Homo sapiens: one gene and its partner. The protein of the gene in region 2 interacts with the protein of the main gene of each other region in a pairwise test. Each region holds a gene or a part of one and is shown on either strand. Other genes may lie near its edges.

Region 1 (3,747 bases), on a different chromosome or scaffold from region 2:
CTCTGCCTGCCAGGTTCAAGCGATTCTCCTGCTTCAGCCTCCCAAGTAGCTGGGACTACAGGCACCAGCTACCACGTCCAGCTAATTTTTTGTATTTTTAGTAGAGACGAGGTTTCACCATGTTGGCCAGGATGGTCTCAAACTCCTGACCTTGTGATCCACCCGCCTCGGCCTCCTAAAGTGCTGGGATTACAGGCGTGAGCCACTGCGCCCGGCCTAATTAAAAAATTTTAACTGATATGTTTCATTATTTAGTGTTGCCCCAGATCCCTCTGGAGATGTGCTTGATATATCGTCTGTGCACTATATTATCTTTCTCAAATTTGAAAACCTCTGAATTCCAAAACACATCTGGCCCTGAGGTGTCACAGAAGGGCTTACAGACACCATCCAAAGCCATTTATCCACAGGTACATATAAATGTATGACACATTTATACCTTACATTGTTACTCTCTACTGAAAAGTGTATTATGCAATTTTCAGTAATCGATTTTTTGTTTCAACAATAAAAATACAAACTGGCCGGGCTTGGTGGCTTATGCCTGTAATCCCAGCATTTTGGGAGACAGACACAGGATGATTGCTTGAGGCCAGGGGTTCAAGACCCCTTTGGGAAGACAATGTGAGACGCCATCTGTACCAAAAAACAAAAAAAGCCAGGTGGGGCTCCTGTAGTCCCAGCTACTGGGGAGGCTGAGGAGGAAAGATTGCTTGAGTCCAGGAGTTTGAGGTTGCAATGAGCTATGATCGCACCACTGTACTCCAGCCTGGGCAACAGAGTGAGACCATCTCAAAAAAAAAAAAAAAAGAAAGAAAAGAAAAGTAAAAAGAAAATGAAAAAAATACAAACCATCTTAATAAAAAAGGGAAGATTCAAACAATATAGAAATCTGTAAAACTCTCCCTTCCTCAATACCATTGTACCCCCCGACTTAACAGTCTGACAAATGACGTCCCAGACCTTTTCCTGTGCTTTTACTAAAAAAGTCATCCATAGCGGGGAGAAAAGGTGCTTGATGTGTTTCTACATAAATGAGACCTTACTGCACAGACATTAGCGGCACTATGAGCTTCCGCGGTATGGATATGCTCTAGTTTCTTAATCAATACTCGAGTGATGCATTCGGGTTGTTTCCAATTCTTTAGTCCATCCTAAGCACTTTATTTATTCTGCTCCTCACAAGACCCCTGAAAGGTGCGCGCACCATTCTCATCCTCTGGTGACTTCGAAGAAGACTTTCCTCGAAGAGGGCCAGGACTCACCAGGGTCGCTCAGCAGGACACGGCAGGCGGGAAGGCGAGCCAGCCGGAGCCCCGCGCTGTCCACCGCAGCCTCGCCCGCGGGGCGAGCGGCGATCGTACAGGGGCGTCTGCCGGGGGACCAAGCTGGCAGAGCGGCGCGGGGGACCAGCACTTCCTAGCAGTGCGCGCGCCCTCCGGCCTCTGCCTCGGGGCGCTGATCCCGGCCACTCGGAGCCCGGTGCTTGATGTTGGAGCCAGGCGGCCAGAGGCCCCGTCCCCGCCCCGGCCCCCGCCCCCGCCCCCGCCCCCGAAACACACAACGCCCACTACGGCCCAGGAGATCCCACTTCCGCCGCGAGCTCCCGGCGCCGGAAGTCCTCGCGGGGCTCGCTGGGAAACTACGCTACGCAAGCATTCCCCAGCTCCCAGAAAGCCGTTCGTCCACTGAGCCCGCCTTCTCCATGACCGATGGCCAATGAACAGGAAGAATTCTCAGGCTGCCTATTAGAAGACAGAAACTCCATACGCGTCATACACCTGCACCCGGGAGGAAAGGCGAGGCTCTGCATCTAGATTTACCTCGTTCTCTTTTGTCTCCGCTTTTTTTTCACATTTCCTTGCGACCCTGGCCCTTGAGCGACAAAAAGGGGAAGCCAAGGCTGGCCCGAGGAACGGAGAGGGCACATGGCCTAGCCACAAGTGGAGCTTCTGCTCCGCCCGAAGGGATGCGCTGGAGCGGCCTCTTCCTTCTGCCACGGTCTTTCTTTGCCAACTAGTAGGTGAGGGCCGAAAGGCCGCGGGCCGTGGAGCTCGGGCCGGGGAGACTCTTTTCTAGCCTCTTGGGTCCCGCTCCTCCCAATTCCCTGGAGAGGCGTCGAGCTTGCTGGGAAGTGCCCTCGGGTAAGGGGCGCGGAGCCTCCTGCGGCGATCCTCTGTCTTCGGGTCGCCTTAGCAGGACGCGGCAAGCGGGACACTGACCTGGCCGGAGTCCCGCGTTCTCTCACCAGCTGCTTTGTCCACGAGTTGCTGCTGGGCGTCAGGGGTCCCACGGCCCGGAGGGATCTAGAGCAGGGGGGCTCGGGGTCCTTTCCATACCCTCGGATCCTCTCCCACTCTCTCCACGCCTCGACCCGGAGATGATTTCAGGCTCCAGATCTCTTTCATAAATGGAAAGAGTTTTTTTGGTTTGTTTTGTCTTAATTATGTAGGTGTTGCATGCTTGGAAGAGAAAATTTAGAAAATTAATTGGAAAACCATAAAGATAGCTTTCTCGTGATAGCCACAAGGCTTGCTCCCTCATTCTGCTCATATGTCACCCCCTCAAGGAGGCCTTCCCCAGCTCTGTAAACAACCTGTGCTCGGCGTTAACTTTTCTCCCTAATGTTTATCACTACCTGACATATACGTGTTTCCCACGACTCAACGATAAGTGTTCATGAGGGCAGACACTTTTTAATGCCCTATGACAAGCACCTAGAATTGTGCCTGGCACATGGTAGATGCTTAGTAAATATTTGTTTAATGAATGAAGGTAAAAAACATTTCTAATACGACCATCCAGGAATAAGTACTATTCATGTTTTAGTGTGTTCTTACAGTTTTACTGTTCAGACAGTTATATGCCTGTGAATATATATTATATATGTGTGTATATATATATATATATATATATATATATTTTTTTTTTTTTTTTGAGACAGAGTCTCGCTCTGTCACCCAGGCTGGACTGCAGTGGCGCGATCTTGGCTCACTGCAACCTCCGCCTCCTGGATTCAAGCGATTCTTCTGCCTCAGCCTCCCGAGTAGCTAGGATTACAGGCATGTGTCACCACGCCCGGCTAATTTTGTATTTTTAGTAGAGACGGGGTTTCTCCGTGTTGGTCAGGCTGGTCTCGAACTCCTGACCTCAGGTGATCTGCCCGCCTCGGCCTCCCAAAGTGCTGAGATTACAGACGTGAGCCACCGTGCCTGGCGGAATTTTCATATTTTAAGTCCCCCACCCTTGGACATTTAGATTTTTTCCATCTTTCTGTATTTGCAGATATGCTTCTACGTACACCTTTATTCATTTGCTTGAACATTTCCCTGAGAAAAACTAGAAATGGAATTGCCAGATTACTTTGTGTACATGTTTCCAAACTGTCCTCCAGAAAGAATGTAATGCTTTGAACTTCCACTTGAGAATCAAATGTTTACCTTCCTCTGTTCCTCCAGATTTGGACATTTACAGTGTTCAGCCGTTGTTGTGGCATTCCAATTCAATTGGGAAACAGCTTGATGTAGCGTCCCCATAAGGTCCACAGTAATTAAATTTTTTTTTTTTTTTTTTGGTGCGGTAGTGCAATTTCATGGCTCACTGCAACCTCCACCTCCCAGGTTCAAGCGATCCTCCCATCTCAGCCTCCCTAGTAGCTGGGATTACAGGTGCACGCCACCACACCAGGCTAATTTTTGTATTTTTAGTAGAGATGGGGTTTCACCAGGTTAGCCAGGCTGGTCTTGA
Region 2 (3,747 bases):
AATTGTAGCCCACTAAGATCTTGTGTCATCTCCTTTTATTATAAATTATTTAAAAAGTGAAAATGAACCAGGGGATTCAAATGTATTATTTGTTTATGGTGTTCCTCTCCTCATCTGGTTTAATTGAGTTTTCTTGACTAACCTTCAAGCAGCATTACATCTTTTCTAAGTTGGTCCTCTTTAATCATGCCCATCTGTAGCTGTTTTCTGTGTAGGACATTTTAATTACTATTATAGTTTTAATGACTTTTTTTTAAAAAAAGTTTTTTATATGTGCACAAGGTGAATTCATCATAGCAGTGCAACTTTAAATACAAATCAATAAAATTAATTCATTTAATTTTAAGGTGCTAGAATTAAAAAATGAGTATTTGAATTGATATTTAAAATGCCCTCTACCTGACTGTATGGGCAATAATTATTCTTTCTTATGCAGCCTTATTAATTTTGATGGTTTGAAAGACAGAAATCCCCCAAATAGACACTAAAACCCTAAATGTTCAACATCTGCATTGTCTCGCCAGATTCTCCTTCAGGTTCCTTTCCTCAATCTAGCAGTACTGTGTGTAACACAATATGAAAACTTGCCCCACAAGGCTGGTTTTACTTAATGATACTTAGCAGAAGGGCTTTGCACTTTCATGATAATTTCCACCAGAAAAATCTCTCTGGAACTTACTAACAATAATCAGGCCTAATATTAGCCTCAGTCTGGAGATTTATTTAACCTATTTGGCAGAGTAGATAAAGTCGAATGCCTAGGTATTCAAGCATCTAGGCTGTGCTTCGGCCTTGGAAAAAGACTCTCAGGCTAGCACCCTAAAAGCATTCCTCAAAACTTGATTTATACTAGAAGTGACATTTCTTACTCTCTAGAGGCTGTGAGATTGCAAATCTTGCAATTACTTCCATTGCTTTTGGGGGCTGTGAGAATTTCCGCCTCTCATCCTCCACAGTGAGGAGGGTAGTCGGGAAAGGCTTTCTCCCTTAAGTTTTCGTCAACTTTGAAAATAAGGACTGTGCTCCCTACATCACCAGCAATTGACAAGGATCCAGGAAATGCCTGCTAGGCACTTTCAAACTCGGAAAAATGGGAGTATGAGGGAGGCTAAGTAGGCAGTATTTAGCTAGCAACTATTATTTCCTTTATGTTTCTACCTTGTTAACTAAGCTTCCACTACGGTTCATAAATCTCCAATATCGTGAATTAAAGAAACAACAACAAAAATCCTCTTCTGTGTGCTTGTGCGTGAGGGGATAGAAGTCCACTGCCCTAAGATGCAGGACTTATCTTCCCAAACAGGAAGAGACCCATTTCTGAGAAAGATGGTAAGTTTCCTAAGGGTCTCCTCTCAGATAGAGGGGATGGCAGTCCCCGAGGGGCGAGCGGGCGCGGGTCCTCAGGGTCCCCGTGCGCTGAGAAGGCAGGTGAGGCCCCGCCCTGCGTCTCGACTCCGGATCCCGGGTCGCGAAGGGCAGCCCAAGCGGGTCCCCGGCCCCAGGCGCCCGGGTCACTTCACCCCACCTGATTCGGGCCCTTCCCTTCTCCTCTGTCGGCCAGCTCTGCCGCCTCGCTCTCTCTCCCGCCCCCCGAGTCTCGTTTCAGTCATCCCTTTGTCCTTCCCCGGATTGGCAGGTTTTATTATTCCGCCTGAACAATCCGGCCGCCCAGTGGCTGAGGGTCGCTGACGTCGGAGGCAGAGCCGGGGAGTAGTTGGGATTTTGCTCTGTCAGTAACACATGTGTAAGAGCCGCGGAGGGAGCGAGCGAGCCGGCTAGAGGCCAGCGCCGCCGCCGCCGCCGCCTCCGAGCCGGGCAGCAACAGCCCCGGCAGCGGCGCAGGCTCCAGCGCGCCGGGCCCGGCCGGCCGCAGCCCCCGACGCCTGGGTGCGCCTGCCTGCCGGCCTCCGCACCGTCCGCCGCCGCTCCCGGGGCTGTTGTGTCTGCGACTGCTCCCGGCCGGAGGTGCAGGGAGCTCAGCCGAGCCGCCGCTGCCATCCCGGAGCGAGCAAGCGAGCGAGCGCGCGGGAGGGAGGAAGGCGGCGGCGGAGGAGGAGGAGGAGCGGGAGGAGCGCGGGCGGGGGCGGGGGCCCCCGGGCGGGGGAATATACAAAGTGAAGCCACATTGCCAAACTTGCAGCAGCGATTGCAGCAGTTGCTGCCGCTGCGCCGCGCCTGAAGCCGCGCCGCGCGGGCCGAGGGCTCCTGCAGCTGCTCGCGCGCAGTCGGAGGCGGAGAAGGACGAAGACTGAGACTGACACTTCTGCTCCCGGCCGCCCGGCACTTACGCGGGGGCCCCCCAACCCGCCCCAGAGCAACGCGATTTAAAAAAAAAAAAAAAGCCGCCCTTAGCCCCCTCCTCCCCTTTCCTGCTTCTGCGAGAACTCCCTCCCTCCCTCCAGCTCCGCCAGCCCAGGCGCCCCTTCCCTGGAAGCCGAGCGGCTTCGCTCGCATTTCACCGCCGCCGCCTCTCGCAATATTGCAATATAGGGGAAAAGCAGGTAAGGGGGCGGGTGGAGAGCCGCGGGCCGGGAGGTGGGAGAGGGAGGGAGGGGGTCGATTCGGGCCAGGGCTGTTTTCTTTGGCTTCCTTCCCCTGACCGTCCCAAATTGCAAGTAAACAATACGTCGGCTTAGATAAAGCGCGAGTCTGAAACTACCGAGGCCGGCCTGCGAGCTAGCGCGGAGGGCAGCCCCGGGCCGCCAGCTTTGTAGCGGTTCCTGCTTACAAAAGGGCTCTTCTTGGAAACGGGGCTGGTGGGGACCGTAGAGGGGGTGGGGATATTTCTAGTTCATAAGGGAAAGGCAAGGGGTGCTTAGATGAGGATTTTAAGTATGAGAAGTAGTGTGTTTGGGGGGGTGGGGGTGGGGATAGTCACGATACCCCCCCTCCCTTCTAGTAAACACTATTTTTGAAACAGTGGCAGGAAGGATCTAAGTGAGCAGGATTCGGTATTGCTGGTTCTTTTAAAAAAATTCTTCTTGGCTTATAAGTCTTTTGTTCCAATCCAGGAGAAATACGGTGAATCACCTAATTAAAATCAAGACATGAATTAAGCATCCATTTTTGTACTACAAATTGCCAGCGTTACGTTTGTCCCTCCCTTGGTCTCCATTAAAAAACACCAGAGACGTTGTTAAAGGGGGGCAGATTTTGCCTCTAGCTGCCAGTTCTGCTTTCTATTTCACTGACTATCCCAGGACCTAAATTGCTTGGCTATGTAATTACTAGAGTATAAGCCTATTTAACTTAAAAGCTTTCTTTTTTTTTTTTTTTTTTCCAACTCTAAATGAAACTTGATGAGGGCCCGTCCTTAGTTATCAGGGGAGTCAGTTTCTGGTCAGTCTTCTTGATTCATCTCTTTTAGATTTAATCAGCATTAAGGTATTGCTTGTCCTTAAGAGCTTTAGCTAATGGGGTTACTGGATGCTTTTCTCAGTGTAATGTTTCCTTTTCAAAAAAAAAATACATATATATTTACCTCTCACTAAAGATGGGGGCGGGGAAGAGCTTGGAATCTCCTCCCTCACTCTCCTTTTAAAAAGGAATTCGGAGCGATTAAAACGTTGGGGGAAACAGTTTAAAGATCTAGGGCAGGAAATGCAGATTCATTTGGGTTAGGGCTGAAATTGTAACAAAAAGCAATTCCTCGAGTAAATGCATCAGATAAATCAATTTACATAAAGGTATGATGCATTCGGATAAATGCAATGCTAATGGGTTTTAGAGTGGTCCTGTTTCCAAAGT

The links. The genes of interacting proteins can lie anywhere in the genome.
Region 1: the proteins of LMO4 (region 2) and ZNF213 interact in binary tests that used the Homo sapiens proteins (3 or more experiments, as listed by UniProt).

The regions. Positions count from the first base shown.
Region 1 is NC_000016.10:3,132,906-3,136,652, reverse strand, and holds the start of ZNF213 (zinc finger protein 213), read right to left. Parts: upstream 1,625-3,747; 5' UTR 1,266-1,624; exon of another isoform or gene 1,208-1,265; intron 1,197-1,207; exon of another isoform or gene 1-1,196. UniProt on the Homo sapiens protein: May be involved in transcriptional regulation.
Region 2 is NC_000001.11:87,326,744-87,330,490, forward strand, and holds the start of LMO4 (LIM domain transcription factor LMO4), read left to right. Parts: upstream 1-2,136; 5' UTR 2,137-2,501; intron 2,502-3,747. UniProt on the Homo sapiens protein: Transcription cofactor. Plays a role in establishing motor neuron identity, in concert with MNX1, acting, at least in part, to disrupt LDB1-LHX3 complexes thereby negatively modulating interneuron genes in motor neurons.